2 separate regions of the Homo sapiens genome follow, and region 2 is linked to region 1. Evidence: fine-mapped expression QTL. Tissue or cell type: cerebellar hemisphere. Region 1 holds a variant in brackets; the other region holds the start of a gene. All regions are shown on one strand. Distances are from middle to middle.

Region 1 (2,708 bases):
AGTCAAGGGGCCCATATCTGGTGAGGACCTTCTTGTGTCATCCCATGGTGGACAGTGGAAGGGCAGGAGAGGGCGAGAGAACACGAGCAAGAGAAGGCTGGGCTTGCTGTTATAACAAACCCACTGTCGCAATCACACACCCACTCCCACAATAACTAACCCACTTCCATGATAACTAACCCACTCCCACAATAACTAACCCACTTCCATGATAACTAACCCACTCCCACAATAACTAACCCACTCTCATGATGACTAACCCACCCCCACAATAACTAACCCACTCTCACAATAACTAAACCACTCCCATGATAACTAACCCACTCCTGCAATCACAAACCCACACCCATGATAACTAACCCACTCCCACAATAACTAACCCACTCTTACAATAACTAATTCACTCCCACAATAACTAACCCGTGATAACTATCCCACTCCCGCGACAGCAACATTAATTTATTCATGAGGGCAGAGCTATCATAATCTAATCACCTCTTAAAGGTCCCACCTCTCAACACTGTTGCATTGGGGATTAAGTTTCCAACACAAGAGCTATGGGGGACACATTCAAACCATAGCACTGGAGCTCTCCAAAGTCTCCTGGCTCATAAGTGGCAGAGCAGGAGTTCAGTTCCAGGTCTGGGTCCTTCCCATGGTACCACCTGCTGTAAGGAGTGCAACCCTGCCCTCCAGACCCTGGCTGGGAAGCTGCTAGAGCCTTCCAGGAGGAGAAAAGAGGCAGGAAGGAAAGGCAGCAGCAGGAGAGGGGCAGAAATGTTGGGAAGGGAAGAAGCACTCCCTCCAAAGCACATTCCTCGCACACTGCAGTCATGAGGTTGCCATAACCACATGGCTTTATGGGTGCCTGGTGAATGAAATGGCAAGACCTGAGAGATCTTTAATTAGTTCTACATAAACTAAGACATTTGTATTGTATCAGGAAGTGGAAATCAGCCCCCGCAGTTGCCTCTATCCACTCACACAGACTCATAAAATTTACTGCCTCCTGGTGCAACGCGGGATCAGTTTTTCATTAGCAGCAGGGCCAGCTCTTTCAAGCTGTGAAGGAGTTGCAGGGCAGCAGAGGGTCTCCAGGCATCACGGCGATGCCCTTGGCTGGCATCATACCATGACAGGTGTCTGCATTCTGCTGCAAACTGGAAGAGTGATTCATCCAGAAGGGGCATGGGGTCTGCTGTCCTGAGTACGGAGAATCCTCTGCTTGGGGTTAGGGTGTCCTGACGCTAGAGGGCCTGGTCCCAGGACAGTGGCAATCCTAGACTCAGATTGTAGGAAGAAACATGTAACCCAGGCTACATTGAATTTGCAGAGAAGACCAGTGTAGCCCTCCTGATGGGGGAGCACTTCCGGTCCCCAGGAAGCGGGAGATTTGCTCAGAGCCTCCCTGCTCTAGTGTGGAAGAAGGATCATACTTTCTTTTGCATGACTAGAAGTAGAGCAAGTGCCAATGAATAAACTCTACAAGAAGAGTAATTCCAGCTCCAGAAGAGG[G/A]AGCTTCCTAATCGCCAGATGCCTTGGGAGGGAGGGAGGGAGTTCTGGTCACCAGAGGTGTTCAATTAGAGGCTGGATAATGACTGGTCTGGGATGTGTTTAGAGAAGTCTCTGTATCAGCTGGGACACTGAAAATCCCTTCCAGCTCAGGGAAGTCATAGCTTCATGGGGACAGAGTTGGCTCCATAGCCTTAAGAGAGGAGCAGCTCTGAGCCTTGATCCCTGGCCTTGAGAGGAGGCTCTGTCTCTTTGAACCTTCGTCCATGTCTTTTCTCCATCCACATCCAGGGCTTGTCAGAAGCATCCCCACTCCTAGGTCTCATGAGGCACTGAGGAGAAGACCCTTCCCCTTCATGCTGGACTCTTGCCTCCCAACCCTTCTGTCTCTGCCAGACCACCCTCTCTGCTCTTCTCCGGTAGCCTCTTCTCATGGAATCTGGAGGGGCTGTGAGGCCATCATGCCCCATCACCGCCTCTCTGGGTCACTGGAAGGTTCCCATTGCTTCCACTGCTCCCAACCTGTCACTGAGTCTTTTCAGTAGGTGCCACTGGAGCCACTAGCCTTGCAAAGCCAACAGCCCATGGCTGGTCTGGGCACCCTTTCCTCTGTTCTGGCCTTTACTCTGCTGGGACCCTTATCTTGCCACTAACTCTCCACTGCCTCCAAGTCCACCAAAGGTCAGAGGGCTGGCACTGGGAACTATGACCAGCAGCAGGCAGCCTGCCACGAAGGACTTGAGGTCATTCCTTGGGAGGCTATAAATGCCTATCCCACTGCCCCAGCCTCACTGGGACAGCAGATATCTTGACCCCCAGTGATCACCATGATCAGGCAGAAGTTTATTTCCCCTCTGAATCTTGAGATGAAGTGATTTTTCATCTTTGGGCAGTGCAGCAATATTTCACATCTCTAGTTTAGAAAGTTCATTTATTCCACCTTATTCAGTTCTTACCATGGCTCAGTGGTTAGAACTCATCCTGATTGTCTAAATGAGAGAGACTTTGCCCAAGGTTGCACAGCTAGTAAACAGCCATGCTGGAATTTGAAACCAGGCCTCATCAAGCCCTGTGGCCAGTCTGTCTTTGCACCCTGGTGCAGAAGTTGAATATCTGCTCAGGGGACTCACCCCAGGCTAAGCTAACTGCACAGACCAACCCTCCCAACCTCCACCTACTAATGGTTTCTTTGGGAT
Region 2 (2,500 bases), 110 kb before region 1:
AGTGCCCTTGCCACTGAAGCCATCAGGAGAATCCTAGAACTGGAACTGGAACCCAGAGCTCCTGGCCACGGGCTCTTTCAGCAGCATCGCCTTCTATTCCTGTTGTCCTCCATAGTGGCTGACTGGCCCAGCAGTCAATGTTACCTTTATTACATATGATCTCAGTACTTACTATGTTACAAGTCCAATATGCACTATTAAGTGTGCCACACTTTATTAGAAGTGCAGTGACACTGTATTATATATCAAGTTCCATCAGGTCAATATAGAAAATGGGAAGTTTGTACTGGCATGCCTTGTTATTTTGAAATGGAATCCCAGCACCACTGCTGCCCCCACCTCCACTGCATATTTGAAAACCCAGTCTACTCTCCTCTGCCCGCTGTTCCAGGAAGACAGGCTTTCTCCCAAAAACTCAGTCCCACCACCTCATTCACAGGAATGTCAACAGGCACAAGGAGATAAAGTCTCTTGGGATACAAATGCTACTTAATGTGGGGGGTGGAGGAGGTGACAAGAGAAGAGAGAAAACTACCAAATGCCCTTCAGGCCACCAGTTTTTCTCTAGTGGAATATAGGAAATGACAACAGGAGAGAGCCTGGTTAGCCCTAAGCCTCCCGCAGGGATGGAACCTGAGTTTGTGTAGGAATTGCTCACCTTTGATGACTGGGATGATTGAGGCAGGCTGGTCTCACCACACAGGGATAGATGGCATGGGTCTCAGATTAATGGCAGGCAAGAAGGGGAGATGTCAGGACTGGCAGGCGGCCCCAATGAGCCACCTCTCAGATACCTGGAATAAGATCTCCTCCGTTTTCAGTGTCTCATACTACCTCAGGTCTTGGTCCTGAGAGGAAGGGCTGCCAGCTCTGCTGCCCCCTGGAGGGCTGACTTTTCACCCCAGAGTAAAGATGTGGTTGGCCGCCCGGCACTGGAGGAGCTGCAGATCTCAGGAGGTACAGAGCCCCCGGGGAGTCGGTTGTCGGGGGAGAAGGAAGGGGAAAGAGGTTGGGGGCTTGGGAGTAGAGGAGCGGTGGCTGAAGGGATCAGGTAGTCCTGATCAGGACGTGGAGATCCACCCACAAGCCCTGACAATAACTCAGTCGAGTTCCTGGAGGGTCTCAAGGGCTGGGAAAGGTGGAGTGGTGCCTGCCCCAACGCGTCCATGGAAGGTGGTGCCCGCCTCACCGCCTCCGTGGAAGGCCAAACGAGCCCTCGGTGTGAATCCGGAGAAAGAGAGGGAAGTGCAGCGCCAGCTCCACTCCACACCCCCTTCCTGCCTATAAATAACCCCAAGTGTCACTTCAAAGAGGACGGGGAGCGCGGCAGAGGGGCTCCCGGGCCGGCGGGCTGGGGCCGCCGGACCTGCTCACCACGCCCCCCACCCTGGGCGAGTTTGCATAAATAAACAAATCCAAGCCGTCGGCCCCGCGGGAGGTGGAGGAGGAGTGACGAGGAGGAGGAGGAGGAGGGAGGGGGGAGGGAGAGATTAGTTTGGGAAGTAGCACGGATTGCTCATCCGATCCGTGCCGCCGCAGGGAGTGTGTCAAGTTACAGAGGCGCCGGAATCGGCCCCTGCGCTCCTCGCCAGCCGCCACGACCCACCTCTGCCCATGGGGCCCTCCGTGTGCGCCCCTTCGCCCGGGGACTGAAACTGACTGGCCCGGGAGACACGAGGCGCCCAGAAGGACTGACAGCGCGGCACCAACTGCTCTGCAGACACTTGAAGGGAAAGACTGGGCGGAGAGAAGGAGAGCCGGTCAGATTCCCCTAACTTTCCTGGACTTGGAACGTTCTTCGAAATAACTTTTTTCTCACCTAGGTGTACCCCAATTACCGCTGGTTGTGCTTTTTCGGCACTTCCTCTCCTACTGCTAATTTTTCCGTCCTCTTTGCCGGGAGCAGCGGAAAGGGACGTTTTCCAGCGATACAAGCCCTTTCCCCCTGCCCCGCAGTTTGGATAGAGCCTTTTGGCAGCGGCTGTCGCCTTTATTTATTCTATTTATTTATTTATTGGTTCTCAAGACGCGAGAGGATGGTAGCGGAGCGCACCCACAAAGCGGCAGCCACCGGTGCCCGCGGCCCTGGGGAGTTGGGCGCGCCCGGGACGGTGGCTCTGGTGGCGGCGCGGGCGGAGCGCGGCGCACGGCTGCCGAGTCCAGGGTCGTGCGGGCTGCTGACGCTGGCCCTCTGCTCGCTGGCACTCAGCCTGCTCGCCCACTTTCGGACGGCCGAGCTGCAGGCCCGGGTGCTGCGCCTGGAAGCGGAGCGCGGGGAGCAGCAAATGGAGACGGCTATTTTGGGACGAGTCAATCAACTGCTGGACGAGGTCTGTGCTCTTTGTTGCTGGCTTTTATCCCTCCCCGCGGCGCCCCCTCGCGCAGCCTCCAGACTGTTCAGCCGGTGTCCGCGGGCGCTCGCTCTCTGCGAGCCCCAGGTTCGCGCGAGTTGCCTGCGGGAGGGGTCGGGGACACGGACAGACGCTGCCCTACCAGGGAT

What was found. PIP is the estimated chance that this variant, and not a neighbour inherited with it, causes the effect.
Region 2: COL13A1 starts here. The variant in region 1 is fine-mapped to the expression of COL13A1 in cerebellar hemisphere (GTEx, PIP above 0.99).

What each region holds. Positions count from the first base shown.
Region 1 is chr10:69,907,404-69,910,111 of GRCh38, forward strand. The region is part of intron 17 of COL13A1 (collagen type XIII alpha 1 chain); the gene reads left to right. Among named protein-coding and RNA genes, the nearest start is that of LINC02636, 100 kb to the right of the region's middle. The variant G/A (reference allele first, on the strand shown) is at 1,516.
Region 2 is chr10:69,800,388-69,802,887 of GRCh38, forward strand. COL13A1 (collagen type XIII alpha 1 chain) reads left to right here and starts at 1,519. Exons shown (of 41, transcript NM_001368882.1): 1 at 1,519-2,330. The coding sequence starts at 2,037. LOC124902444 (a long non-coding RNA gene) reads right to left here and starts at 1,384. Exons shown (of 2, transcript XR_007062179.1): 1 at 659-1,384.